Linked DNA regions of Homo sapiens: region 1 is linked to region 2. Evidence: fine-mapped expression QTL. Tissue or cell type: whole blood. Region 2 holds a variant in brackets; the other region holds the start of a gene. All regions are shown on one strand. Distances are between the middles of the regions.

The links.
Region 1: SDC2 starts here. The variant in region 2 is fine-mapped to the expression of SDC2 in whole blood (INTERVAL, PIP above 0.99).

What each region holds. Positions count from the first base shown.
Region 1 is chr8:96,486,615-96,502,604 of GRCh38, reverse strand. SDC2 (syndecan 2) reads right to left here and starts at 8,792. Exons shown (of 5, transcript NM_002998.4): 1 at 8,274-8,792. The coding sequence starts at 8,333.
Region 2 is chr8:96,563,624-96,579,613 of GRCh38, reverse strand. All of the region lies in intron 1 of SDC2 (syndecan 2), which reads right to left. Among named protein-coding and RNA genes, the nearest start is that of CPQ, 74 kb to the left of the region's middle. The variant T/C (reference allele first, on the strand shown) is at 8,696.

The sequences.
Region 1 (15,990 bases), 77 kb after region 2:
ACGGAAGGCACCAGTTAAAAGCCCCACTCTGGAAATGGAGATCCAGGCCAGAAACCATATGAGGAGACTAAAACACTTTATGAGATTTATAGTTTAAAAAGACCCCCAGTATATCAAGTCATGTAGTCTTCTATCTAGAATGAAAGTTATTTTTACCACGCAGCTGTTCTTTATGTTACACTGGCTTGTATCAGAAAATATATAAAAAAATACTAGTGATATGGTTTGGCTGTGTGTTCACCCAAATCTCACCTTGAACTGTAATAATCCCCATATTTCAAGGGCGGGGCCAGGTGGAGATAACTGAAACATGGGGGCGGTTTCCCCTATACTTTTCTTGTGGTAGTAAGTCTCACAAGATCTGGTGGTTTCATAAATGGGAGTTCCCCTGTACAAGCTCTCTTGCCTGCCACCATGTAGGACGTGCCTTTGCTTCTCCTTTGCCTTCCACCATGATTGTGAGGTCTCCCCAGCCATGTGGAACTGTGAGTCCATCAAACATCTTTCCTTTATAAATTACCTAGTCTTGGGTATGTCTTTATTAGCAGAGTGAGAACAGACTAATACAAATAGACATTAGATCACGAATACGCAGGACAATGTATACCACTCCTAGTAAACAATGAACACTCAGTTCAAGGTAACAGGTTACCATGAGCTATTAGAAATTACTTGCCTTTCTGTAAGGTGAATAAATTCCATGTTTCAATAATAAAATTAGAAGTATTTGACAGGGGATTAATAATTACTTATTAAGTTAATCTTCACATTTCTCCTACCACACCCTAAAGTGCAGAAAAAGTAAATATTAAGGAGAGAGAGTTTTTCTCGTTCAACTCCATCATTTTAGAGATGAGAAAACTGAGGTCTCACAGGGATTAAGACAGTTAATTACATGTGTATAAAACCTTGCTTTTGCCTTGACTTAAAATGTTGTATATTTAGTCTACTGTATTTATATTTAATAACAAATTACACATAAATACATACTTAACTCAGCTGGTTGCAGTGGCTCACGTCTGCAATCCCAGCACTTTGGGAGGCTGAGGCAGGCGGATCAGTTGAGGTCAAGAGTTCAAGACCAGCCTGGCCAACATGGTGAAATCCCGTCTCTACTAAAAATACAAAAAAAGAATAGCCAGGCGTGGTGGTGTGCACTGTAATCCCAGCTACTCGGGAGGTTGAGGCAGGAGATTCACTTGAACGGGGGGAGGAGGTTGCAGTGAGCCTCATTTATGCCACTGCACTCCAGCCTGGGCGACGGAGTGAGACTCTGTCTCAAAAAAAAAAAAAAAAAAAAAAAAAAAAAGAAATACGTATTTAACTTTTCCCTTAAAAAAAATTTTCCTTTAATAATTGCGTATCTTGTCCCGTGTGTCATTCTTATACCATGAGACTAAATTCTATTAATTGCACACACTCCTTAAACATCACGGTTACTTGTATTTAATATACCTGTGTAATCATAAAAAAAAACACCAAAATGCTTTGTAGAGAGCATACTTACTGAGTCTTTGTGACATTTTTCACAAAATAGACTGAATAGTAGAGAAAAAAACTGTGAAAACATGTCTTTAATAACATTTTTCCATTTTTCCAAGACTATGCATTGGCTATCACGCCACCAGCTGCATACTCATTGGCTTCACTCTGCTGATGTGAAATGCAAATGGAAAATCTCCAAAGATTTCAAGGCTTCTCTCTTCTCCCACTCCTACCAATTCTTTGAGATACTTGAGAAAAACAGACATTCACAATTCTATTTCAACAGTGTCCTCTCCCATTCAGAGGCATTCACCCCTCCATCCTTGTTGCTAAAGCTAATGCTGCCTAGAAACAGACTTATCAAAATGCAGTTGAGATTTTTAATAGTAAGACCTAAAGCCCAATGGCTAAAAGAAGAAATTTAATGCATTTCCACTCTTTTTTTTTTTTTTTTTTTTGAGATGGAGTCTCACTCTGTCGCCCAGGCTGCAGTGCCATGGCATGATCTCGGCTCATTGCAACCTCCGTCTCCTGTGTTCAAGCAATTCTCCTGCCTCAGCCTCCCAAGTAGCTGGGATTATAGGTGCCCATCACCACGCCCGGCTAATTTTTATATTTTTAGTAGAGACGGGGTTTCACCATGTTGGCCAGGCTGGTCTCGAATTCCTGACCTCAGGTGATTGGCCCACCTCGGCCTCCCAAAGTGCTGGGATTACAGGCATGAGATATCGCGCCAGGCCACATTTCCACACTTAAAAAATAAAAATAATCCCTTTTCTGCCCCCAGATCCCCAAAATATACTCACTACCCCTGCCACCTCATTCTAAATGACCAACGGCATACCAACGCATGATACAGACTAAATTCTAACTCTCTCCTTCCCATGTGCTGGAATCTCAGCACAGCCTCAGGGAAGAGGAGGAGGTGTGACTGTGCACAGCTGATGTGTCAAGACGTTACATCAATGTCTTCTTTATTCTTGACACCAACCCTGCAATGCTGATGACACTGAGTGCAGAGGCATCAAAACTGGACAACTAGCCCAGGTCCACTGGGGGCTGGTGTATTCAGTTGACCCTGAACCATAATGCCTTCAGTGGCCAGCGTGAAACTTCTTCAGGAGTGCCAACCAACCCCAAAATGTCCAGGCCCACGGGTATCTGCACTTCAGCATGCAGTGTCAACAGATGTTTACCCAGCTCAGCACTGCACAGGAGTAGGAGATTTGGAAACATGGTTTCTTCCTATAGCACTAACCTTGATGGGAGAGAAAATTCACCTATTTAGAATGTCAGAGAGGTAAGAACATCTGACATGGCTCCCTCATTTCATTCATTTCATTGCCAAAAAAAAAAAGGCCAAGAGAGGAAAGGAAGAAAAAAAAATGTCCTATCTTCCGTGCCTCAAGCACCATTCATATGCTCCCTTCATTTCATCTTCACAACAGTCATGTTATAAAGGCATTCTTAGGTCCAATTTACACACACACACTTTTTTAAGTGACTCAGAGCTTTAATATACTGTCCAAGTTCTGACACATTAAGTGGCAAGGTACCAGCATCTGAACCCAGACTTGTCCACCTCCCAAGCCCAAGCCCTTTGTATTCTAAGCCCAGCTACTGCTGAAAACTCTAGTAGTAACATAGAATAGCACATAATTAAGGGGTAATGCTGTGATCTAGACCAGCGATTCCCAAATTAGTCTGATTCATTAGAATCATCTCAGTCGCTTTATAAAAATACAGTTTCCCCCACACTCCCACCCCCATTCAGGTTTCTGATTGTGTAAGTCTGAGAGGAGGCCTGAAATCTGTATTTTCACATACTTTCAATGATTCTGATCATCAGTATGCCTTGCTATTTACAGAAGGATTAAAAACAACAGGGCTGGATCAGCCATGAAAAGGTATTTGGAGCTTGCATTTAATCAATAGCATTTAAAAGGAGAAACACTGAAAAAGTAGCAATGTCCAGGGAGTGTTCATGATAGTGATATCAATGGGCCAGGGCTGGGAGATGTGGTGGAAAGTGATCAAGGGGGTAACCAGAAAGGAAGGCTATTATGGGGCCGCTTATAAATCCAGCAGAGGCATACAGACTATATGCCATGATAACAAGGACACGGAGGTGTCTAGACCATGGGCAACATGATCAAAGTGGTGGAGGACAAACCAAACTGCATGCAAGTGTCTGGGCCAGGAATGGCAACTACAAGGCTACTGACATAGAAGCACAAGCTGGCATGCCCCCAAGGAAGAAAAAAAGAGGGAAAGCTCTTCATTTGAAATTTTCTGTCCCATCAAGATTAGTGCTGCAGGAAGAGACCAATGGCCAGGCATAGTGGCTCACGTCTATAATCCCAGCACTTTGGGTGGCCGAGGCGGTGGATCAGCTGAGGTCAGGAGTTGGAGACCAGCCTGGCCAACACGTTGAAACCCCATCCCTACTAAAAATACAAAATTTAGCCAGGTGCAGTGGCATGTGCCTGTAGTCCCAGCTACTCGGGAGGCTGAGGCAGGAGAATCGCTTGAACCTGGGAGGTGGTGGTTGCAGTGAGGTGGCTGCAGTGAGGTGGTGGTTGCAGAGTGCCATTGTACTCCAGCCTGGGTGACAGAGTGAGACTCCATCTCAAGAGGAAAAAAAAAAAAGATTAGCGCTGCAGGAAGGGACCACATTTCCAAACCCCGACTTCTTTGCAGTGCTGAGCTCAGGTCAGGAGCTGGGTAAACACCTGTTGGTGCTGCATCTTTAAGTGCAGGTTCCCATGGGCCAGGGCATTCTGGGGCCGGTTGGCACTCCTGAGGAAGTTCCACGCTGGCCACTGAAGGCATGAAAAAATGAACGGAAAGATCACTAGAATGCAAGCTCCAAGAAGGCAGGGGGATATCTGCCTGGTTTGCTCACTGCTTTACCTCAAGCACCTAGTAGGTATGAAATAAATATCTGCAGAATGAATGCACAGCTGGACTTAGAGGCAGACTGGACGTGGAAACCAACAAAGATGAATGAGTCCAGGGCTTCTTCAAGATTTAAATCCAAATGATTAGAATGAAAATGATAGTACTGTCACAGTTGACTAAAAAAGTTAAATAAGAGTAGATTGGTTTTAGCAAAGATTCTTCTTCATTACTTCTGGCTTTTCTCTAAGACTTTATTTTGGCCTCTAGTCCACGAAAAGAATTCAGTGGTTTGGAGATTCTGCAATGCACCCTTCTGCCTTGGGAAGAAGAAAAGGATGGGCAAAATCTTTTAGTTTGATTTTTGGCAATGGAAGAAGGACAATCTAGTGAGAATCTAAACCCAGATGGCATTCCTCACAGGACAACTGGATCCCCACCAGCAGGTATGCCAACAGCACAGTGGCTTGACTGGACTTGCTATAAACCTTAATGACAGGGCTGGTGGGGCTCTGTGTGACTGGGTCAGCTTCAGGGGCCTTGCCAACCTAAGGAGACTCCAAGCCACCTCTAGCTGGCCAGTCAGGTCTCTGGGGGCTTTTGGAGACTTGAAAACTAGTTCCACCCAGGGAACAAACCAGTTCACCTTTTGAAATCCTTTCCAAACTAATGATTATCCAAGGCGCCATTTAAGTGATCATATTACACAGGGTAGGCTACCCCTCGAAGGGTGGTTACCATCAAAACTAGACATATCAGGTCCTAAAAGCAGAAGCTGAAGGGCATGCTCAAATTGCTTCTCAGACATCCATTTTCTGCAAGCCTGATCTTTCAAGATCTTTCCTTCTTAAATGACATCCTCCTTCTGCTAATACCCAACTAAGAGAGAAAGAGCCCTTGTTTTTATAAAATTCCCTAGCAAAAGCAATTTGTTTCACTCATAAAACAGCCAAACTATATTTTCTAAAGAACTGCAAAGTTACATGATTTCGATTTTAGTTACCCTTCTAATGCAAACTTTCCAGAGCCTGCCTTTCATAATACACCGAGAGATAATGCATGGGCCCAAATGACTTGACAGTTTCTTTTAATTTACAGACATCTAAGAATGTTTATAAAATTCCTCTAGTTCAAAACACTTCCTTTTCTTAAACATATTTCCAGTTCAAATTATGTGTTTATAGCAGTCTGCAATATATTATTTCTAAAGATAAACAGTCATGTACAAAATGGACAGAAAACCAGCAGCATATCACTACTGCCACACTCAGTCAGATTTTCCCCTTGCCTGGTGCTCCGCAGCCAAAGTCCTAACCTGCCAGTGGAAAGTATGAATGGATCACTAGGAACAGGCTTTCCCAGCTGCCTCCAGGATCCATAAAGGAACAGCTACCAGTTCCTTTTCATAGGCAGTTTTGAGCCTTAGTTCCTGAGAACCTCTTTTTTACCCCCAGAGCTAAGTATAAAACTTAAGAATTCACTAACTGTAGGCAGTTTTCCTTTCTTCCTTTAAAGGGAGACTTTAAACCCAAATCACTACTTCTAAATCCCAGGAAACAGTTGCAGTTTTCAAATTAAAATGCAAAGTCCTGGAAATAATATTCTGTAATTGCTAATTTTTTTTTAAATTCAGTCTTTTGACTTCATTTATATTTTTGCTGCTATACATGAAACAAACGGAGACTGAAAAGTAATTTAAATGGACTGTTAGCCATTCTGGGCCTTGAAACAGCTTCTATTTAGAAAGACTGACTCACTGCCTAACAAAGATTCTCTGCTAGTCTCTAAGTTGACATTTTATAAATATCTAATCACCCTTTTTGGATGATTTTCCAATTACTGAAAACAGTGTCTATCACAATGAAGCAGTTCACTCGGAAAGCATCCAGTTCTGGTTCAAATTGAGAAATATTAGAACCCCAAAGATACACAGTTCAGGGGAAAGCTGTCACCGGGGAGGACAGGTATATAGTTCGGCCAAAAAACTTCCTTAAGGAGCACTGGTAGATTTATGCAAAAACCCAGAGGAGCAGAAGACAGAAACATTCTTTCTCCAGAATCCCAAAACAGTAACATTTCCTAGCAAATCCATGAATAAGACTCAGCAAAAAAAAAGGGCCTCCTTAACCATGTGCAGTTTTTTAGGCAGGCTCTTGAAATTTATTAGATGAAGTCCCTTTGCCCTGTTTTGCAACAAGAGGAGCAACAACGCTCATCTGAAATAAACAAGAGAACTGCTGCCTTTTGGTGTACAAAGAGCCAAAGTTCATCCTAACTGGCTGGGAGATAACTAATACCAACGGATTAAACCATCATTTGCCAAAGGGAAACACTGATAAGGCTGGGAGTTCTATTTTACAACCTGAGCACCCAAAATACTCATGTAGTCTGTACAGTTTCCAATTCTACATGCTCTCCAACCACAAAGAACGTATGGGGATCTGCTAGCACACACAGAGGCTCCCACACTGATTAAAAATGTCCATCTGCCGCTCGATGCCAAAGAGGTTTCCCAGTCCTAAATTAGCCTCAGCACAAAAAAGGGGGGGAGGGAGACTCAAACTCATAAAACTACCTAAAAGACCTTAAGATGATATAATTTGTCTTTGAAAAGACCATTCAATTAATTAGAAATTGACACGTTATTAAATGGCAAAGGGAGAGGACGTGGGGAACCAGAAGGGCCAGAAACAGCCGCACTCCCTGAGACCCCAGAGGGCACTGAGGCTGCAGACGAAATCTGGGGTGCTCAAGCTTCCACCTGGCCCGACAGAGCTCCTGGCGCCCAGGTGGAGGCAGCTGCGGACGAGAGGAGGCCAAGGAGGCAGTTCCCTTTAGAGGGCGCTCATTGGGCGACGTGGGGAAACAAGCTCCAGCCCCCGAAGCGCGACCAAAAGGAGAAATCAAGTTCCCACCGCCAGGGCGGGGGAGGGAAGCTGGGTGCCGGCAGGCGCTCCGCCGGAGACGAGACTCCTCCCGGCCCCAGAAGCGCCCCGCCAGGGCCAGAGAGGGCGAGCGTGGCGGGAGGGAAGCCTCTGTCCCCCAGCGGCCAGGCGACCCGAAGCCGAGCGCCGTGTCACACGTACCCCGCCTCGCCCTGCTTGCGGCACTCCCGTGTAACTCCTATGAAAATGTCCTCCCGTCCCTGACGCCCCGCGGTGCAACCTCCACCCCTCAACGAGGAGGGGGTCGCCGCAGGACTGGGAATCCAGTGGCCGGCGTCCCAGCATTTTCGGACGCGTTCCGTGCCTCCCCCAGTATCCCCTTGAGGGATCGCCTACTGCGATTCCACGTAGTGTCGGTTACCTCGCCCTAGCCGCAGGGAGCATCAAACAAAAGAACTTTTGCAAACTTTTCTCTCTGGACACTCGCGGGTCTCTTAAATCTGGCCCCCATCTCCCCAGAACTTGCATGCAGTCAAACAGGAAAGCTGGCGCGGGGGGGATGGTGTGCGGAGGAAGGGACCCCGAAGTTTCCAGGTCATCCCTGGTCTCGAGGAGCGCGCGGAGTGGAGCCGTTCCCTCGCGGGCCCGACCCAGGCTCCCCCCTCCTGCCACCCTTTCCCCTCCGTCCTTCCCAGACCACGCAGCAAGACCCGCCGAGGGCGAAGAAGTTGGGAGTGACTTCAGGGGCCTCTGCGGCTAGACCAAACCGCAATTCTCGGTGCCCCCATTCCCGCGGACCGCGGGGTAACGCCAGCGAGCAGCGCTTTTCTGAGGAAGGGAAGAGGGGGAAAGGGTGACCGGACGAGCGCATTTGTCCCAGCGGATCTCCGGTGTATACTTGGGGACTGGGGGTTCCCCAGGTGGCGCTCCCCTATTCCCTGCGGGCTCCTCTCGTAGCTTCAAACACCCTAAACGGCGCGCGCATCCTCCGCCTGGCCCACTCACCGACTCCGCCGACACGCAGGCCACCAAGCCCAAGGTGAGCAGGATCCACGCGCGCCGCATATTCCCCAGGGACCGGCTGCTCCCAGCCGCTGCTTGCAACCAGGGCAAAACGAAGCCTCCTGCCCAGCGCTCGGCGCAGCCCGCGCACACGAATCCGGAGCAGAGTACCGCAGCGATTGCGGCTCAGGCTCGGGGACTCGGGCTCGGGGCTCGGGGGCGCTCGCTTCCTCCTCCTGCGCCTGCTCCCGCCGCCCGCAGCTGCGCCCCGGGAACGCGGCGCCCTCTCACTTGTTGGTTTCTGCACTCCCGACACGGAGTTGGTGCTCCGGGAAGGCTGCTCTCTGAAGCTCTTCTTGCTCTGCTGTGGTTTTGCTCCTCCGCGGACTCCTTTCCCGTGCCGAGGTTCAGTTTCTGGTTTTAAGGAATAAATTCGCTGGCTTGAAAGGGAGCTACGGCAGAAGTTTAGGGGCAGAGCGGCGGGAGCGCGCGATCCGCGCGGCTGGAGCTCCGGGGGTATCTGGAGAGCAGCGCGTCCAAGCGGGGCCACTGGCTCCGCGGCTGCGCCCCTCCTCCTCCCGCGCCGCGCCTCCCTCCCCGGGTCCTCCTCCTTCTCCTCCTCTTCTTTTCCTCTGGCTCCCTCCCTCCTGAGCCTGCTTCTCCGGGCTCCCCTGGGCGACTGGGGAGAGGAGGCGGCAGTGTGACTCCCAGATAAACCCGGGAGAAATTCCTACAGGATTACACGCCGATTGGCAGCTCCGAGGACCAGTGGGCGCCGCGGCTCCGCGCTGTGGCTGCGCCGGCTCTGCTCACCGGCAAGCCAGGGCTCCTGCGTTTTCTCAGTCCTTTTCTTCCTTTCTCTCCCCACTTTTCCTCTCTCCTCTATGCTCTTTTCTTCCCCGTTGTCTTTTCTCTTTCCCTTCTTCACTTTCCCTTTTCTAGAGAACAATTAGTGAAGAAACGAGAGACGTATGTAGCTTTTCTGCCTTGAGAATTCGACCAGTAGAAAGAAACTGCTTTGTGAGTTGAGGGAAAAAAAAAGTGTAAGATGCTTTCAAGCAATGTGAAGTGTTCATAAATCGCCAGTTCATGAAAATTGCATTTTAAAAGAGAAGATAATTAATGTAATAAATATATAGTGAGAGTGTTTCCCATTCTCCCAAATCCTTCCGCACCCCCAAAAAAGGGACATGGAGGAAGGATCCTGTAAACCCAAAGTGCAACAGTTTGAAAGCTCCTAACTTCATTAAGGGCTTAAATACCATTTCTCCCTCACACACAGTTTATGCCACTAAGGCTTTTTATAGGCTCCATTTTAGCAGATAGGTGTTAACGTTTGGAAGCTACAAATAGGGTAATTTGATGAGAAGTTGGATAGAGACCCTGAATAATAACAGATTTAAGATAACTTCAAAGAAAAGAGGGATAAAGTAATTCTTAGTTTGAAGAAAATAATGAACATGTATTTCCTAAATGGAAGTAGCTGACATGAAATATTTTGTTACAATGTCTGTGGCATATTATAGAACATGGCAAATGCGTATTCCCTTCCAGTTTCTTTTTCTTACTGTCACAAATTTTACACACAAATCCCTTGCAGTTCGTGCCATCATTTTTCTCTCTGACTTATAGAGTAAATGAATTATGACGCCATTCTGCTCCTGGAATGCCCACTACAGGAAACCAGAGACTTTTCTGTCTGTTCACCATTGTATTCTCATTCCTGGTACATAAAGACACATGATAAATATTATCTTGAATAAATTTTGCTCTAAAGCTCAATTTATACCGTATAAGAGTTGTGAGCCTTTAAAATACACCAATGTAGATATATAGATATGAGGCCATGGTAATTTTTCAACTCAGTATTAGAATAAAATACAGTCATACCCTCAGTGAGAATTAAATGTCTTAGTAACCTATTACTGTAATAAATCTCAAAGAAAGAAATTTAACTGGAGAATTACAACTCAAACTTGGAGACACTTATTCCTTTGGTTTTGTGTGCCAGCTACCAAACCTACAAATGCTCATGAGCAAGTCTAAGGCATTGGCCAACAAAAAGGTAATATGGAGAAATAGAAGAGTAGGCAAAGGAGAAAGAAGAAAAAGAGCAATAGGCCAGAAGTTGTAACATCAGATGATGCTTCTGATTCCACAGACACTGTAGCTGGCATCTGTGCCAATGTGGGCTCCACTTAGCTTTTGAAAGAATGAACCACAGCCTTTTTTTTTTTTTTTTTTTTTTTTGAGACAGGGTCTCATTCTTGCCCAGGCTGGAGTGCAGTGGCCTGCACTGTAGCCTCTACCTCTCAGGCTCAAGCAGTCCTCCCACCTCAGCTTACCAAGTAGCTGGGACTACAGGCACAGGCCACCACACCAGCTAATTTTTGTGTTTTTTATAGAGACAGGGTTTTCCATTGTTGCCCAGGCTGGTCTCAAACTCTTGGGCTCAAGTGATCTGCCTGCCTCAGCCTCCCAAAGTCCTGGGATTAGACACGTGAGCCACCAGCCTAGTGCCCTTATTTTTAAGATGGAGTCTGTGGGTTGAAGAGGTTCATGAGATGGGGAGACTTCTTAAAAAGGCCTCCAAAGGAAAAGCAGCAATGCAAAATACATGCAAAGAGCCATAAAATACCAGCTCTGTCCTCATAAGAGGCCTCGTCTACTCGCCAGCCTTCAGGCAAGGCCACACCTCCATTGTCCCCAACAGTTAAGTATTCATCAAATAAATTGGAATTCCAGTAAAACAGGAAGTGCACTCCACTGATTTGCTGGTTCTCACAGTTATTGCTGTTTACTGGGGCACCCATGTAACAAGAAGCGTGGTGAATGCTCTCTGATTCAGCTTGGGCAGACAGTGATAAAAAATGAATAAGTGGATACACGTGTTGAAGGGATATTATCTGTTTGCTGCCCTGAAGGCACACCCCAAGGCTCTTGGTGTTGATGAGATGCTCAGTGACTTGTTTCTTTAAAGATGATAAATACTCCATTGAGAGTATATATAATAAGGGAATTGGTACCATTTTGAGTGACACAATATTAAGGAGATGAAAACAAATATTCAAGATCTTGTGTTCAGATTTATTAACAGCTGTGGCAAGAAGGATAATCTGACAGTATAAAAAGCACTTACACAAGAGCTGGCTACAAAGAGGTCACCCATGCTGAGTGGGGATGGGGACAGAAGTCAGGGGAGGTCCGCTGGTATTAGTCAGGATTTGTCTAAATTCGCAAACGATGTAGGCCTGTTTGTGTGTTTTGCTAATTGGAAATGTTTAAAAAACTGATGGGGACTAAAATTTGGCAGAATTTTGTGTAGTATATCTAATTCACTAAGTATAGCTTGTGACTAGAACCAAAGGTTCTTTGCAAATATACTTCAAGTCCTCAGGTTTTGAGGGCTATGCTTTGAGGGGCACAGCTTAACCAATCACTTCCCAAATAGCTTCATTGATTGCTAAAAGAATAATTACCACACTTCAAGAGTCTCAGGAGAAAATATTAAAAATAAACAACATAGAGATTAAGATGCAAACATGTAAAAACAAATAAAAAATAAAGAGAACCAGACAAGTGAAAAAATAGAAATGAAAGCTACTAAAGACAGTTTTTAACCTAAACTGACACATCGGACTCTGTCACTACGGTAACAAATGATACCACATTACAACCGTGGATAAACAGGTGTTCTGTCCTGAGGTGAGTTGTCAGAGTAGGGGATAGCGGAAAAAAAAGATGCCATTCTGTTGTTCTCGGTTGTTCTTCCACTTGGCACCCCCTGGACTGTTACCAGGAGTCCAGGCTAGAAATCAATTTGGTAGGATTGGCTCTTATGAAATTCACTTGAAAGATGATAGAAGCTGAGAGGAATAGGATATCCATCCAGCCAACCATTAATGAGCCATCGCTAATACTGGCAAGTGAGCTGAGGCCATGACCAAAATCTACAGGCAATCCAAAAAAATCTATTTTCAGGCCTGGCGCGGTGGCTCACACCTGTAATCCTAGCACTTTGGGAGGCCGAGGCAGGCAGATTGCCTGAGCTCAGAAGTTCAAGACCAGCCTGGGCAACACGGTGAAACCCCGTCTTTACTAAGAACAACACAACAAAAATTAGCCAGGTGTGATGGCGGGCACCTGTAGTCGCAGCTACTTGGGAGGCTGAGGCAGGAGAATTGCTTGAACCCGGGAGGTAGAAGTTGCAGTGAGCCGAGATCATGCCACCGTACTCCAGCCTGGGCAACAGAGCGAGACTCTGTCTCCAAAAAAAAAAAAAAAAAGTCTATTTTCAGCCTCAAACTTTCCACTGTTCTCTTTATTCACCTCCATCAACCCCTTCCCAGAGAAGTTGGCTGATTTGAGTTTCATAAAATGATATGGTGCTAATGTTGAACAAAATTGTTACAGTTTTGGATAGGAGGACACAGGAAAATCAAGGAAGTGTATAATACATAAAATAAGACAGGAGATAAAACAGTTACTTCTGTTTTTCTTTTTCTTTTTTTTCTTTTTTTCTTTTTTTAGAGACGAGGGCTCACTATATTGCCCAGGCTGGCATCGAACTCCTAGACTCAAGTGATCCTCCCCCTTGGCCTCCGAAGGGTCTGAGATTACAGGTGTGAGCCATCACACTTGGCCCTTCATGTCAGTTTTTCTAACAGTGTGGTATGGTTCTTTAAAGGCTGGCAAAATTTGACATTCAGTCAACAAATATGTATGGATCACCTGCTGCAACTCAGGTACTCACTGGGTAGGCACATGAATTTTCTTGAACCTTGTTAGAGTTAATACATTTTTAAACTAAGAGTTGTTCTCAAGTCATGAATCTGTGACTAAAGTACATGATGAATTTCATTCTAAAATCAGATAAAGTTTAAAGAAAACATTATTTATGGACTAAAATACATATCCAAAGAGCCATATTTGAATGTTATAGATTTGGATGTATGAATCCAGGAAGGTACCACAGAGGTATCTTCAAGTTATTTTGCATTGCATTTGTATATATCCAGTTGAACAGGAAAGTCTAACCTTGATTAATTTTATGTAAAATGGTACTATTTTTTAAATTGACAAATAAAAATTGTATATATTTATGGTGTACAGCATGCTCTTTAAAAATATGTAGCCAGGTGCAGCAGTGGCACACACACCTGTAGTCCCAGCTACTCGGGTGGCTGAGGTAAGAGGGTCACTTGAGCCTAGGAGTTCAAGGTTACAGTGAGCTATGATCGAACCACTGCACTCCAGCCAGGGTGACAGAGCAAGACCCTGTCTATTAAATAATTAATTAATTAATAATGTGTACATTGGGGAATGATTAAATCAATCTGATTAACATATGCATTGCCTCACAAACAAATTTTTTGTGGTAAGAGCACTTAAAATCTTTTTTCTCAGCAGTTTTTGAGGATACAATATATTGTTAGCTATAGTCACTATGATATACAACAGATCTCTTGAACTTACCATGAATTCAACTTTTTAAGATTACACATAAGTGGAATCGTGGTATTTGCCATTCTATACCTGGCTTAGCATAATGTCCTCCAGGTTCACCTATGTCATCACAAATGACAGAATTTCTTTTTTTTTTTCTTTTTTTGAGACAGGGTCTGGCTATGTTGCCCAGGCTGAACTCCAACTTCTGGGCTCAAGCAATCCTTCCACGTAGCTGGAAGAGCCCCGCTGCCTTCTTTTATAAGGCTAAATGGTATTCCATTGTGTATATGCACCACACATTTTCTTCATCTGTTGGTGGACAGTCCTACTCTTTTTTTTCTTTTTCTTTTTCTTTTTAGAAAGGGGGTCTTACTCTGTGGCCCAGGCTGGAGTGCAGTAGTACGATCATAACTCACTGCAGCCTCAAACTCCTGGATACAAGTGATCCTCCCTCCTCAGCCTCCCAAGTAGCTGGGACTACAGGTACTTGCCACCGTGACCAGCTGGGACTACTCTTATTACTACTCTCTGCAGGTGATTACTTTAATGGTAACTAGCTCTAACCTCATTGACTGTTCTTAGAAATCCATCCTCTCCAAGGCCCTGGAAAGGGGCCTACATGTTACATATCATCATTTAGATGATTCCACACCTCCTTGATCACAATTATGTAGACCAGGGCTGGAAGCAGGGGGAGGCAATTTATTAGTGGGCCAGTGGCCAATCAGATTCACCTTTCAGATTATTTGAGCCAAGGAACTCAGAGTCTAACTAAATTGTACATTGTTGACCTGGGAGTAATCCAGAATTGCTAAGGGGTCCTTGTGTGGTGAGAGAGAAAAGGTTGATGTAAAATGGAAAGAATGAAGCAGATGAACAGAGAGAAGCAACAACAGAGGATATATGGCTCCAGAATAATGTAGTTTTCCGGATTTTGGTTTTTTTTTTTTTTCCAGTCCCTTTTCTAGCCTGTTTTGAAACCCAAATAAACTTTCTTCCTTTAGGTTATACAAGATACTATGGTATCCTTAAGGTAAATTCCTCATTTTTCTTTAGCTAAAGAGCTAAATTTACTAGTAATTAATTTATTACTACTTCTTGGTAAACAAATGAAGCCAGCCCAAGACAGAGATGAAAATGAAGCAAAGAGCTTTGACTACCTTAGCTTCACTCTGGATAGAATGGAAATCTTGCCATTTAGTGTTTTATGAGCCATGTATAGTTAAGAACAGTTTTAGTGAAGATAAACTACTACTAACATTATTTAGATTTTCAGGAGAAAACACAAACTTTTAAAGAAAAATTTTACTTATGAATTACCTTGGGGGAAGTGTTTTCCATGTAGAATTTGGTATCTTTAAAACTCTAAAAGCAGAGTAGAATACGTAGATTCTTTGCTGAATTAAATAGTATTAGCACTGGGAACACCTACAAGTTAATGCCAGGAATTGCCTCACTGAACACTTTTCTAAAAGATCTAGAGGTCAAGGCACACAAATGTCCAGGTGTGAAAATGTTACTAAATTCTTTCAGCTAGTGAAATGAGAAACAGGTAGGATAGCCACGCCTGGCTGAGTTGTTAAGTAACCCAATACATTAAGGATACCTAACAGAGGCTCTTACACCGGCTGTTAGGGTAGGCTGTGCCCTGTAGTGGTTAAAACCTCAGCCTTTGGAAATATACAGACTGGGGTTTGAATCCCAGTTCCACTCTTACAGTGTTCTTAAAGGCCTTGACACCTGAGCAGGCCACTAAATTTAAACCCGTTTCTTCATCTGTAGTTTGGAGATAATTGGGTTAATGTGTGGAGCCTATGAGTTAATAATACGCATAAAGTATTTAGCAAGCTACCTTGCACCTAGTGAACTTTCAATAAATGCCAGTTGTCTCAATAAATGCCAGTTGTGGTTATTAGTGTTTCCTCTCAATAAATGCCAGTTGTTACAAATGCCATTTGTGACTAGTATTTTCTCTGCCTGGAATAACTCATCTGTTCTCTCAACTCTCTTTGCCTGCCTAACTCCTGCTTGCCCTTTAAGGGTCAGTTTAGAAGTGTCCTCATTAGCAAATATCTGAATGCCTACTGTGTGTTGCACACCTCCTCCAGGAAGCCTTCGCTGATCCACCAGATTAGATAACAGACTTTTATGATAATTAATTCTAACTTAGCATGGAATATTGGAGTTGCTATAAAATTTGCTCTTAGAAACATGTTCTGTTGTGGCTAAAAGTATAAACATAAAACTGAATACCACTCAGAAAGACCTAGGA
Region 2 (15,990 bases):
ATTTGCAAGATAATATACTATTTTCTCTGTGCCTATTCTTAGAGAAAAGTATCAATTCTAAGCCTGTGTTTATAGACAGTCATGGTTCCAAGTGGTCACATCCTGACTGAACTTCCAAATACCAGAATATTTTAAGTCTTTTCACAGGAATTATGGTAGATATATTATTCTGTCAAGTTTGCCTTTTCACGCTAGGCCTCTTAGAAACTCAAGCATTTCAAAAGGCACAAAGTCAATATTTAAAAAGCTACAATGCACAGACAAAGCAATTTGGCATTTTCATTTAAAACTTATATTAAAAACCCTCACTAGCATCAACAGCCAATTTCCAGATTAGACATTAAAGGAAAGCACAACATAATCTAGTCTGTTATCTGTTTAGAAGAAAAAAAATTAAGACTTTATTAAAATGCCATACATAAAACGAATACAGAATTGAAATCTAAGTAGACTGACAGCCCATAATGCTTTATTGTCAGCGTGGCACCTACCACGTGAATGAAATTAGATCTGATCAAATCCGAAGTGCTGGCAAAGAAACAAAACACAAAAAAACTTAACTGCTATTTGCTTTGCTCCCAAATAAGAGCAATTGCAGTTACAAGGGACTGAGCTACAATTCCTGTGGCAAGTGTCTGATACGCATTCAGGTTTCACATTCCTGGTATCCAACAACCGCAGGAGTTTACTGAGGAAATGGGTGTACAATTTCCAAATTTATTAGTTGGGAAGTTTAATTCCCTTTCCACACCCACCCCATCATCCCCTCAAATTAGAGAAGGCCCCTGCTTTTTCTTTTCTTTCTTTCTTTATTTTTTCAACACCAAACTAAATAAGCAAGAGCTGAGAGTTCTGTAAAACTCCTTAACACTAGCTGATCAAGGGCCTAAACCATTGTCAAGCCATGCCGCCTGGGGCTGTCACACAGGGGGCATTTCACAGCTTCACTGGCCTGGCAGCCTTTTTATCCCCAAAGTCATCTTAAGCAACTGTTCTTCAGCAAACAGACCTCTGAGCTTCATCTCTTCCATTGTAAAATTGTGGCACAAAAGAGCTAAGCATTAAAGAGAAACCAGAATCAGCCTGGTCAACTAATTTCAATCCCATCCTTCTCTCTGAATGCTTTTATTTGCATTAGGGCTGTCTAATAAAATCTGTGATGATGGAAATGTTCTACATCTGCACTGTCCGAAATAACAGCAAATAGCCACATATGGCTATTGAGTCGCTGATATGTGGCTAGTACAACCAAGGTACTGAATTTTTCATCTTATTTACTTTTCAATCAATTTAAGTTCAAATAGACACATGTGGCTATTTTTCCAGACTTTTCTAGTGGCTACCATACTGGACAGTGCAGCTCTAAAGAGAATTTAAGAAACTGCTGTTGGAAGCCTGGACACATCAAAGCCACCTACCTTTGCTGGGCTAAGCCACTTAAACATTAACTGTACATTAACAGAAGTCAGTGCCTAACAACATAATTGCCTTTTCCATCACAACTCTCCCTTGGCACTACATATCTGGCAGAAAAATTAAGCAGTCCATCTAACTAGGTCATTTAATGACTATTTATCAAACAACTGCTATGTGCTGAAATGTCCTATCATTTGTGTAAAACAGTAAGCTTCATGCATGGATAGACAAACTAGAGTACAGCCACACAATGGAATATTATTGGCGATAAAAAGATATGAGCTATCAAGCCATCAAAAAGACATGAAGGAACTTAAAAGGCACATCGCTAAGTGAAAGGAGCCAATCTGAAGAGGCTCCATACTGTATGATTCCAAATACACAACATGTTGGAAAGGCATAACTACAGAGACAATACAAAGATGAGCAGTTGCCAGGGGTTCAGGGGAAGAGGGGGTGGGCAAATAGGTGGAGCACAGGGTATTTTTAGGGCAGTGAAATTATTCTGTATGATAATATAATAGTAGATACACGACATTATGCATTTGTCAAAACTCATGTAAGTGTATAATACAAGGTGTAAACCTTAATGTAAACTATGGACTACAGCTAGTAATAATGTATCAATGTTGGTTCATTAATCCCAATAAATGTGCCACACTAATACAAGATATGTTAGTATACAGTAAGAGGTGAAATGGGGGAATGCATGGGGGGTATATGGAACACAATGTTCTATCTGCTCAATTATTTGATAAATCTAAGACTCTACCGAAAAAATAGTCTATTCATGATCAAAAAGACAAATACCTGGAGAACTCCTGAGGCCTGTCCATATATTCTGCCCTGACCAACCATCCCTTCTACAGTGAAACCAGGTTTTAGATGAATCACACAAGAGATGGTTCTTGTTTGTTAATGATGTATGTACCTAGCTGCCTCATCTCTCTGGTATCAGACTCAATTAGCTTCAGCAAATAAACGACACATTCCTGGACTTCTGGAAGTTATAAGTAGCCCATTTACAGTTGTAATGGGTATTATACATTCATTCTCATTCATTCATTCTTGCCTACACTGTTCCATCAAGCAAGAAAGCAAGATGCCAGCAACAGATATGGAAAGTTCAGTCTTCTCTAGGAAAATAGCTCATTTGTGTACAAGTATTAAATAATGAGTTGCACCACCGTTCCATCCACCTAGCCAGCACAATCACTGGGATTTCTCTGATGTATTAATAAACTGCAGAGGATTAAAAGTCTACTACATCTCAATACATTCTTGGGACAACTGAGAAATGTAAATATGGGTTGAATATTAGAAATGTATTCACCATTAACTTTCTTAGGTGAGATTGTGTTTTCTCCTTTTTCCCAGGGGATAAATGCTGAATCCTCAGGGGTCAAGTATCCTGATCACTGAAATTTACTGTCAATGGTACAACCAAACAACAAAAAAAAGCTGTATATAAAGAGAATAGGCCGGGCGCGGTGGCTCACGCCTGTAATCCCAACACTTTGGGAGGCCGAGGCGGGCGGATCACGAGGTCAGGAGATCGAGACCATCCCGGCTAAAACGGTGAAACCCCGTCTCTACTAAAAATACAAAAAATTAGCCGGGCGTAGTGGCGGGCGCCTGTAGTCCCAGCTACTTGGGAGGCTGAGGCAGGAGAATGGCATGAATCCGGGAGGCGGAGCTTGCAGTGAGCCGAGGTCCCGCCACTGCACTCCAGCCTGGGCGACAGAGCGAGACTCCGTCTCAAAAAAAAAAAAAAAAAAAAAGAGAATAATAAAGCAAATCTGGTAAAAAAAAACAAAACAAAACAAAAACAAACTACCAATTATTGAACTTATGTGGAGAATATTGTCCTATGCTTTCAAGTTCTCTGTGTATCTGCAAATTCATAATTTAAAAGTTGGAAGGCAGTAGGGTAACTCCAGCTGAAAAAACTTCAGGTGACACCAGAGCTGGTATTAATCACTAATGGGACCAGAAAGTACCGCCTTCATACCAGGTACAAGAATGAGGTGAAATCTGCTAAAAATTATACTAGCCTGTAGTTAGCTGACTTAAATAAATTGGGCCCACAAAAGACTGCATGATGTATTTGTGTGTGGGGATCGGGGAGGGTGGTAACCACATAATATTCTAGGAGAAAAGACAGCTATGAACTTGACAGATAAGCTAGGGCCCTAAAGGGAAAAGGTTTCTTTGACAACGGTAAGGGGGAAGACAGAAAAGCAGGTAAGAGAGGCATCTTTATAAGGGCAGAAAACAAATCCAGTCACAGTAAGGAACTTCCTTATCAGAGCTACTTGCAAACTCTTTGGTGCACTTTCATTGGGAAAACAAAAAATCTGACATGCAGAACAGAAATCATTTTTCTATGTGTGTGGTTTTAATGGAATTCACGTATTCAGATAGCTAAAGAAACAAAATTAGAGGTAAACATTTCAGGCTGTGAATGGCTTAGATATTACCCCCAGGAAACAAAACCTTGCCTCCTTGAACAAGTGAGTGGGGGGAAGTGATTCAACAGTTATGTCAACAGAACAGAACTCAGAACTTGGCTCCTACTGCCATCCTCACCAACCCCTTAATTTAATTAAAGAAAGAAATTGTTCGTGGCATGAATACATAAATTATTCATGTATTGTATATTAATATATTAAAAGGATGACTTGAAAATTCAAACTGTACACTTATGATCTGTGTACTTTTCTGATTGTGTTATACTTCAGTGAAAAGTTGACTAAAACAAACATAAAGAGAGTAACCTGAATCTCAGAAACTCTCCCCGCCACCACCCCACCCTACCCCACCCTACCCCCACCACCCCGCAGGTTTGCAATTACAGGTATTTACAAGACACCTACCAGGTGGATCTCACAATTCTTTCAGGTTTTTTCATTCGTTACCTGTGTATCTGAGCACTGAAGTCAAAGAGATGCCAGTGCTCACTCAGGAAACATATTTAGAAGGCTCTGCATCTCTACAGTTTTCATGAAGGAGAAAGGCTTAGATTTCTGGTTGTCTAGAACAGGGGTTCCCAACCCCCAGGCCACAGACCAATACCGATCCGTGGCCTGTTAGGAACCAGGCTGCACAGCAGAGGTGAGCCGCCAGTGAGCATTACCACCTGAGCTCCGCCTCCTGTCAGATCAGTGGCGGCATTAGATTCTCATAGGAGCACGAACCCTATTGTGAACTGCACATGTGAGGGATCTAGGTTGCACGCTCCTTGTGAGAATCTAATGATAAATGTACTGCGCTTGAATCATCCCGAAACCATCCCCCACCCCTGCCCTCGGTCAGTGGAAAAACTGTCTTTCACAAAGCCAGTCCCTAGTGCCAAGCAGGTTGGGGACCACTGGTCTAGAACCTACAGGTAACGCAATACATTTTCCATAGTTCTTCCATTTTTCCAAAGACATAAAACATAAAATAAAGATAGGAGGCATTAAATGTCTTTTTCACAGAACAACAGTAAGACAAGCCTAGCACTTTAACACCTTCAGTAGAAAGCAGTCAAATGACTGTGAACAGGTGTAATTCCTACCACAGAGAACAAGGTCCTGCAGACCACACAGATAGCAGGCCTGGCTGTTATTTCAGCTAATGGAGATTTTGTACCTGGTAACCACAGATAACTGATCTTGCCTGGTTGTTGCTTGGTGGGGAAGGGCAGTTACTTCTGCAGAGAATATTTAGGAAGCAATTGTGGTTTAAATTCTAAATAGCCAAATGACAGCTCTAGATAAGTTTCTGATGAGACAGCTGCTGCTGGCATATATTTGAATTCAGATCAACCACAGGTAGGCTTTTTTGCTGCTGATAAAGCAGATGTTTTGGTGACTGTGATCTCACTTCTTTCTCTTCCCCTCAGATCCCAGGTGCACACTCCAGGTCTTCAGGTGGCTCTGCTGCCATCCCAGGGTTTCCCCATGAAGATCTAGTCTGTGTCCAGCCTTGCCAACCCCTTAGAAAGGCTAGAGACTTGCGAGACCCCCTAGGCTAAAGATGCTGGCTACTGTATCCACTTACACCAAGAGTTAATTCATTTATTCACTGAGCACCGTGCAGGGTGTGTGCACGGTGCTAAGATCCCAAAGCTGAAGGTGAGTTGGTGCTAGCTATGCAGAGGGGAGGGGGTGTGGAGGGGAGGGGGTGCAGAGGGCAGGGGGAGAATAGGGTCAAATGAGGCACACGGAATGCGGGCATTTAGGGCACCAAGACAGGATGAGAAAAGAGAGGAGTTTTAGTTCTGTGTGATAAAGGGTAGGGTGTGTGTTCGGGATAGGTGAAATAAGACTAAGAAGAGGGTCAGATTATAAAGAATCTTTGGTGAAAAACTAGGAGATTTATATTTCTTCTGTAAGCAAATGAGGGATGTTCAAGGAGAAGGTCAAAACTGTGTTTGGAAAGATCAGGCTGGATGTAGTGCAGATGACAGATTAGAGGGGCTTGACTGGAGGCAGTGTGATCCATCCAATTATGGCGGGAATTGTGTAAGAAGTGCCAAACCAGAAGGATTAGAAAGCCAGGGCAGAGTCAATGGTATTAAAGTAAGTAAAATCTACAGGTCTTGCCAACTTATTGAATGAAGGGTAAGTGAGAGGATATGATGATTTATTTCTTTAAATGACAATAGTCGCTGCTGTCCTCGTAGAGCAATTGTGTGTCAGGTGCTGTTATCACTTTACATGGATAAGACCTCAAAATCCTCCCAGCATCCAACGCCGCAGGTATTAGCCCCATTTTGCAACGGTGGAACCTGAGCCTTAGCAATCCCATGGTTTCCCCTTCATCACCCACACATGAAGTGTAAGCACAGCACCCAGGTTTCTAATTTGGGGTCCTGGCACTCTTGGAAACTTGCCAGAAGGTCAGGCAACATTGTTGTTGGGAGGTCTGCGAAGAGCATCCATCCTGAAGTCAGACACCTGGACTAAAACTTTGAGGTTGAGTTTTTCTGTCTATAAAATGAGACAATAATTGTGCCCATCTCCCAAATTTCACATGAAGATTAAAGAGAAAAAACGTGAAATAGTTCATGTAAACTGTAAACAACAAAACAAAAAACAAGAATACAAGTAATTATTTATATTTATGCAGATGCATCTGATCTTTCAGGCAGGCAAGGCCCCACATTAAGAAAGTGCTTATTCCTGTAGCTCAAGCCAGCTCTGGGGAGGTCACACAGTTTTCCTGGTCCGTGTCATAACTAAGCTGGTGGTCACAACAATCTGACCAATCCTGACATGAACAAAACAAAATAAACAAATAAAGCTGATTAGGACTGAAAAATAAATGAAGACTCTGCAGCTAAGTCTAAAGCTAACCCCACCTTCATATAAACCTACTGCAATAAGGAATTCCTTGGGGTAAGAAAGTATTCAACTAATGTAGTTAATGACTTATAGCAGTTGAAAATTGGACAGTAAATAAACAAAGATGACACCAACAGTGATCCTATAGAAATGGACCACGATATGTGCAGGGGTGGAAATCTAGAAATTGTGGGATGGTTTCTGGGCACAGATTTCTGGTTTGTGGTTCAGATATCAATAATTACATAACATGGGGCCTTTGTTGTTTTTTTTAACAAATTAGCTTACACAGCACCTAGGTTATGAGGAAATATCTAGCCATCCCAAGGGAGCACAAAGTACCCAGTCAACTTTTAAACTTGGGCCAGCCTGGAGAACCGAATGCAGGCACCTCTCTGCTTCATACCACCTGAGACACCACTAGAACCATTTGACTGGGGAGTTCAAATGTGGCACAGAACTCCTCCACAAAAGACCAGTGCACAGGCAGTGGGCATTACCACTTGCCAGACTCACTGGTCCTCAGCAGGTGGCCAGAGATGTTTCAAAGCCCAAAAAAACTTTCCATAAGATGAAAGATTTTAGGTATTAACCATCTTCTCCTTTAATATGAACAAACATTTTCCACCAGGGGTTCTGGAGTCAAAAACCACTAAGAAAACAATTCATTCTGCAGCACCTCCTGTAGGGTTGCCTCTCATTGTCCCAGACCCCCTGCTCCAGGAAAAGCAGTAGTAACACACAATGAGGCCACCAAGGTGGACTTGGGAAAAAAAACAGGGTGGCAGCAGCCTCCACGAGACTGCTTGAGCCAGCACTGATGGCCTTTAACAGAAGGATAAACAAACCCCAATTTACCTTCCTAACAACCCTTCCCTACTGAGAAAGCCAACCCTTCAATTTACTTGTCCTGAGCCAAGACCTTTCCAGAAAGAAAAGTCTACCTGTGCAATAATAATAAATGCTCCCAGTGACTTCACAGCGCCAGGATCCAAAGGCGCTAATGATACTATTATTGCTCCCTCTGGGTTCCAAAAGCCACCAAGCTGACAAAGACAAAGTTTATGAAATAGAAAATGTTCAAGGTACTGTCTTCAGGATTTTTTATTACTTGTGACAGTTTTAGTTTGTGAGCAGCTGGGTTTCCTTCCGTTTCAACACAAATTTGTTGTCAGGCAAAGTGGTATGTAAGCCAGCAAGAGGGGGTGCTGTCTTTAGGGTACCCACCAATTAGCAAATAATTAGAAAGCAAGGCAGTGCCTTCTCTGCTAGCCAAACAAGTACATCACTAGGGAAAGAATCAAACCCCAGAACCACAAACACAAGATTAGGCTGAATCATATAAATAGGTCAGAATACCAGCAATTTCGCATGGTTTAATCTGTATGGAAATTTGAGTTTTTTATTGCTTTGTTTCTATTTTCAAGTTTTATGCAGAGCAGTGGTATTCAAGCCCATAAGACCCCGGTGATCGGGGACCTGCCCCTTTCCATCCTAACTTCATCCCACCTCCCTAAGCATACACACTTTCCCCACTCCAGGGCCTTTGCAGCCGCTCTGCCTCTGCCTGAAATGCTTCCCTCAAGCCTTTTGTGTGGTCAGTTCCCTCTCATTTCATAGGACACAAATGTGACCCTCTCCAAAGAGGCCTTTCCTGACCATCTTACCCATTACTCTCTACCCAGCACACTCCAACAGAAGTATGACGCAAGCCACGTGTGCAATTTAAAATTTTCTAGTAGTCACATTTTTTAAAAGTGTGACACATATTTTTTGGCTTTTTAAAGTTGTAGTAAAATATACCTAAAATTTGCCATTTGAACTAGTTTCAAGTGTATAGTTCAGCGGCATTCAGTATCGTCACACCGTTGTGCAACCATTACCACATCCATCTCTAGACCTTTCATCATCCCAAACTGAAACTCTACCCATTAAACAGTAACTCCCTA[T/C]TCTCCCTTCCCCCGGTAACCACTGTTCTAATTTCTGCCTCCATGAACTTGACTATTCCAGTTACCTCATAAGTGCAATAAAAGTGTCCTTTTATGCCTAGCTTATTTCACTTAGCATTCATTTTAATAACATGCTCTATTTAACCCAACGTATGAACACTTAAAATATAATCAATGTAAAAATTATTGAGATATTTTATATATTTTTTTCATACTAAGTTTGAATTCCAGTGTGTACTTCACCCTTAGAGCATTTCTCAATTTTGACTGACCATGTTTCAAGTACTCAATGGACACATGCACCTCGTGGCTATCACAGTGGAATGCACAGGTCTCTTTCATTGGCTTGTTTTATTTTCTTCATTTGCCTTTCTCAGCCGAAATTATTTTTTTCTTTGTAAGTCTACATACTTCTCTATCTCCCCTTAGCAGAGTATGAGTTCCCCAAGGGCAGGACCTGTGTCTTTGGGTTTTTTGTTTTTTGTTTTTGCCTGCTCTAAGCCAAGCACATATTAAGTGTGATACAATCATATAAATATTTCTAGACAAATGTCTTTAAGGCAGATGCTTTTGAAAATGGAAGGATCTGTCTCCAAAATATCACTTTGATCCTGTACTATCTGGAACAAAAACATCACTGGAGACTACTAGTTATCGTTCCCTTTGTACAGGAAGACTAAGCAGAGCTTGGGATAGTCGCTGAAACCCTGGCACCAGACTTGCCTGGCTCTGCCACTTACCAGCTGCGGGATCTCTCTGCACCTCAGGCTCATCATCTATAAAATGGAGAGGATAGTGATAGTGCCTACCTCAAGCAGCTGCCAAAAGCATTAAATCAGTTAACATTTAAGGCACTTTCAACAATGCCTAGCACTTAGCATCCTGCGTGTTAGATCAACAAATCACACGAATATATTTTGCATTGCCATTTCAGAGGTGACTCTGGACTGCTTCAAGCGACTCCCCTTCCTGTAGTCCATCTACATACAATGTCAGGACTCCTTTCCCAGAGAGCACATGTGCTCACACCTCCGGGCCCCTTATAGCACTAACAGTCCCCACCGCCTCCAGGAGCCACTCTAAATTTCCCAGCAGTACAGGAGGAGCCAGAAGCAGGGAGCAAAGTGAACGACCTTTGAGAAGACACCCAACTTCCCATGCCTCAGGTTCTTCAACTAGAAAATGGATTAACAATGGTACCTACTTTATAGGTTACTGAAAAATTAAATGAGTTAATATATGCCACGTACCTTTACAGTGCCTAAAACATAGTAAGCACTCAATAAATATCATCTAGTATTATTACAAGGCTCTCCACAATTGGACTCCAACTTTTACAGCTTCATTTTAGTTCATTTAGCAAATATTTAAGTACCTACTATGTACTGGGGACTGTCTCTATAAGGCTCTTGCTCTTACAGGAGCTTAGAGTCAGGTAGGAGAGAGATAAGAGCTGTGGTAATCCAGGAGGTAGATACTCTGCTAAGTGTGGTGTACTGTACTCTACACTGGCCCAGTAAGAGAACCTAACCTAGAACTGGGGTGAAAGTCAGGGAAGGCATTTCATGGAGGAAAGGATATCTAGGCTGAGAGTATAAGAAAAAGGAAGAGGCTGAGAGTGGTGGCTCATGCCTGTAATCCCAACACTTTGGAAGGCCAAGGTGGAAGGATGGCTCGAGGCCGGGAGTTCAACACCAGCCTGAGCAACGTAGTGAGACCCTGTCTCTACAAAACATTTTAAAAATTATCCGGACGTGTTGGTGTGCACCTGCAGTCCTAGCTACTCGGGAGGCTGAGAGGAGGATCACTTGAGCCTAGGAGTTCAAGGCTGCAGTGAGCCATAATTGTGCCACTGTACTCTAGCCTGGGGAAAACAGCAAGACCTTGTTTCAAAAACAAACACAAAAACAAGGAGGAGGAAGCAGTGAGCATTCTACATTCTATCTTATCTACCATTCTTATCCAAGCAGCAGCCATGTGTAATTTCCCTTCCCTGACACCCAGTGACTTTTCCTTACTCTTCACACTGCTCACCTGCATTGCACTCTGGGTTACATCTGCCTATCCCAAATAGATGAACAGTTCCCCATTTACCTGTTTCCCTACCATGAAGCAATACATGTTTATTGAATGAATTCACTTTTCCCCTAGTTTCTCTTAGGACTAAAGACCCATACTTCTAAAATGGTGGCCTGAATTATGTCCTAGACAGGGCTGCACTAACCAGCTCTGGGTTCAGCACACCCATGCTCAATTTACAGTTATTTAATCAGTTCACAATCTCCAAACCTGCAGATACAAGAAAGGGTGGCACTGTTTCTGTGGTATTTATTTCTACCTATAAATCAAGAACTCCAACCAAGAGCTCCATTTCCAGGTTTTCACTTAGGCAAGTTTTTGGACCTCTTTGACCACATACATCGCTCCAACTACCATGCCTGTCTGGCAAATACAGACAGAGCTTTGGGGCTCCACCACCAGACACTAAAACAATCATGTAAGCAACTGACAGTCGATTGGTATGTCTGACAGGTTATGGTTATGTGTTAAAAGTACCTATGAAAAGCAGATTCATTCAAGCTGTTCCCCACTTTTGTTTAAACCAACTCTTTGGGTTGGCCAACAATCTTACTCATTACAGATAACATTTCATTTTCCACCCCCACAAGGTATATTCTTTCACCACAAGATGTGCCAACAGTAATTAAGAACTTCTGAGGAAGAGAGGAAAACCCGCAGGCTTTGCTGGAGAAAGAGGGTGTACTTAGCTTAACCCTCCTATAACTTTGTAACAGAAGGCAAAGAAAATTGAGGCAATTCTCCTTTAAGTTTACTGATGCTAAAACGCAAGAATTTGTTTTACTGCCATACACTAGGGTAAAGAGCCAGTAATTATGCCTCTATACAAAAGCATGGGAGAAAATACGGACCTTCTAGTGTGCAGCAGACCTGGGTTCAAATGACAGCAACACTTTGAAGGAGTTTCCTCTTCCAAAAAGTGAGGATAAAGCCATTGCATTCTACAGGAGTTATAATAACTGCCTGCACATTGTCTAAGAGTGCCTGGCACTGTGCTCAACGGAGGTGCTCAACGGAGGTGTTACTCCACTCCACCTCTCAGACTATGGGTGAATAATTAGGTGTTTATGATAAAAATAAGTTTAGCAAAAAAATATCTATGACAACGAAATTATTCTTATGATTCTTAATCAGATTAAAAATGGCAGAACAAGAGCAAAATAATGTCTTTTGCAGCAACTTGGATGGAACTGGGGGCCACTATTCTAATGAAGTAACTCAGAAATCAAAAACCAAATACCACATGTTCTTACTCTTAAGTGGGAGCTAAGCTACGGGTGTGCAAAGGCATACTGAATGGTAAGGTGGACACTGGAGACTCAGAGTGGGGAAGAGAAGAGGGTGAGGGATGAAAAACTACCTATTGGGTACAATGGACACTATTCAGGTGACAAATGCACTAAAATCCTAGACTTCGTCACACACGATTAATTCATATAACCAAAAACCATGTATCCCTAAAGCTATTGAAATTCAAAAAATTTTTAATGGCAAAACATGCCAAAATTAAGACTTCTATAAGATGCCACTTTCTGTTCAAATTGCAATTAAGAGGTATGAAATCTTCCCCTTTCGCTACCAGAATTCTTCAAGTCAGGCTTTAACTACATTTGAACAGAAACTGTTATTGGCATGAACGCTTACTAATAAACTATCACCTTGTAAACTTTAAAAAATAAAGATATAGGCCAGACGCAGTGGCTCACGCCTGTAATCCCAACACTTTGGGAAGCCGAGGCAGGTGGATCACTTGAGGTGAGGAGTTCCAGGCCAGCCTGGCCAACATGGCGAAACCCCATCTCTACTAAAAATACAAAAATTAGCCGGGCGTGGTGATTGCTGCCTGTAATCCCAGCTACCTGGGAGGCTGAGGAAAGAGAATCGCTTGAACTTGAGAGGCAAAGGTTGCAACGAGCCGAGATCATGCCAATGCACTCCAGCCTGGGCAACAGAGTGTGACTCTGTCTCAAAAATAAAATAAAAATAAAGATATACTTGAACATACATATACAAACACATAACCACACCCCCCTCCCTAAATATAGATGCTTACAATAAAACTAAAGCATGAAAACAGGGCACATGCTTCTCAAATTATAAGGTCAGAATGACTTAATTATAACAAAAAATTAATAATAATAAAATAAATATAAAAATAAAATAAAAAATTATTTAATAAAAATAATTTAATAAAATAGATCAATCTCAGAGAAACTACAATCTGCAATTTCCTTTGTTATGTATATATGCTTGCTAGTTGTATTTCACATAAAACTAATAAGTATGAGAGTTATGATAAGATCCTCTTTAGACATGAAAACACACCCAAACAAAATTTGTTATGATCCACATTTCGATAGTTATGAACTGAATGCCTGAAAACCCCTGCACAATATGCTTTATCATTCTAATGAATTCAAATGAATTAATGTTTGTTTCCAGAGCTATCATACCATTAATGGTTTTATAACTCCATAGCATTAGGACAAATCAAATGCTCTGAAATAGTCAAGAAATATTTAGAGGTCCTGAGAGAGTTTAAGTGTTTCAGTTCATGAATTCTCAAAGTCAACTACAATATTCTTACATAATATGCATTTTTAAATTAAAATTCTGCCTTTAAGAGAAACATCTAAGAAGCCCATGAGAAAGTCAGCCAACAAGTATAATAATCATGATAAACCACCAGAACTTTCAGTTTGCTGCTTTACATCTATGACAGGAAGAACACTATTCCAGTGAGTGCTCACTGTGCCCATGTGAGGAAGACCAGATGGTGGTCATCACCAACATTTTACAGATGGGAAAAGGACTTCATCTAAGGTCCTCCCCAAGATCACACAGCTGGTACGTGGTGTACAGGGCAGGAAAGAAGCAAGACTCAAGCCCAGGTCTTCTCGGTGGCATATTTTTCACTAACAATATGAATCTTCTGTGGGGTAACAAGGCAGCTATGTCAACTGGCTGCAGAACTCTGAATTCTACAACTTCCAGGTCTTTGATCACTCTACTGCCTATCCCTGAATCCTTCACCTCCCATCCCCAGGAGGAACGCCGTTACATTCAATCTCTTTATTGCAGTTATCTACCCAGCCTTTCCAATCAGATGGACTTTGCAGAGGGAAGGCAGTCTTTCCCAAACTATGTGTAATGCAGGTATGACTGGAGTCGGGGAAAACTGAGACACAGATATAAAGGCCACACATTCAGTACTATAGTTATTGAAGCAACTGTTGCTAGGGTCCCAGATTTTCAATTCTCTGTCTCCCAACACCACACTTCCTATTATGTCTCTATCCTAATACATATACATATAGATTTATTCTATCCAAAACCCTATTAAGTTAAAACTCAAACTAAATTCATTTCAACATGGAGGAAAAAAAATGAAGATGTACATGGATCCTGTAAGACTCTGAGATATCTTCTGAATCAAAGATTAAATCAGATTTAGGGGTTGGGTGCGGTGGCTCACGCCTGTAATCTCAGCACTTTGGGAGGCTGAGGCGGGCAGATCACGAGGTCAGGAGATCGAGACCATCCCGGCCAACATGGTGAAACCCTGTCTCTACTAAAATACAAACAAAATTAGCTGGGTGTGGTGGCGCACGCCTGTAGTCCCAGCTACTCGGGAGGCTGAGGCAGGGGAATTGCTTGAACCCGGGAGGCGGAGGTTGCAGTGAGCCGAGATCGTACACTGCACTCCAGCCTGGCGACAGAGCAACACTCCCCATCTCAACAAAAAAAAAAAAAAATCAAATTTAGGATGGTCTCAGTGATCAGTATGCTTACCACACTGTAATTTTCCTAAAAATTACTTTCCCTTCCTCAATGTACATTTTTTAAAGAATAAATATACCTAGGCAGAAAGGGATATCCCATTGCTAACTTATCAAAGTTTATGAAGCAAAGTGAAGAATGTACAGAGATTGACTAAAATTTAACAACAAACAATTAAAAGCTGGTATTCTAAACAATCACAAAGTTCAACTCCCAAAACGGTGGGCAGGGTGCTTTCCCAAAGCACTGGCACGGCAGACTTCATCACTTACCTATGGGATGTGATAACACGTGTAAGCTGAACTGTAGGAAAAAACCTGGAATCTTGAGGTATTTTCTTGGAAAGTTTTATTTCATGTCAGATATCAGAAGTCTACAGGTGTGTAAGGAAAACAAGAAAATACGCCCAAATAAAACGTATCATAGGTACATTCGCCAATCAGAAAGCACTCTGTACACTTTTACTTTAGAATCCTTCACAAAGGTCCATTAAATTAGAGACCCTTTACCTCTCTGTGTGAGGCTAATCCACGTGCAACCCACACAACTCTACGGTCAAGGCCTGCATTCTACACCAGCAAAATGCAAGTGCAATGAGAAGTGAAAAATCTATGCGGTAAAAAATCTATTAGGTACTGATTATCTTCTAAAAAGTTCCAGATGCCCTACTCAAATCACATTCACCCTTGGACATCCCATCCCCCTGCAAAGTTGAAAGTACTCAAATCAAGTGCCTTTAATAGGCTATAGGCCTGGACAGATGACATGTATCCATGGCCACAGTGACTCCTCACCCCTCCTTTCCCCGCCAACACTAATGATACAGGTGGTTGACAATTACACTGTGAATGAGACAAAGGAATGATTCCTACATTTTTTTAATTCCCAAATTTAACCATAACACTAAAATGCAAAACCTTTTACCAGTACAACTGGGGACACCTGAGTCTTTAGAAAGGTGGAGTTACCAAGCTGCAAGACAATGCCTAGGCCTGGTAACGGCAGGAACAACAGAGATGCTGGCATCCCTTGGCTAAACTGCCTGCAGAATACAAGCCTGTAGTTTGTTAATTGGCAGCTGACTGGCTGTAGGGCCTGTTGGTCTGTAATGACAGAGTGTAGCCGCCAGTGGCTCACAGCTAAATATGTAAGTGTCCTCACCCAACATGCAGAGAGGAAACAGAAGTATAACCTTCAATTCATCAGTAGTTTTATGGACAAAGGGCCTGTCAGCTGGCACCAAGCAGGAGCTCAAAATGCATTTATGTTCAAAACACAATTTTAGCACTGTTGGATGTAAAATCCAATGCACAGATCTGAATAACCAATGGCCTCCAATGAATTCGATGTTTCTTTTAACCAAAACGTATTAGAATTAGAGAACTGTTTAGAAGAGTGGTTCTCAAGGTGCAGTCCCTGGGGCCGGCAGCATCTCA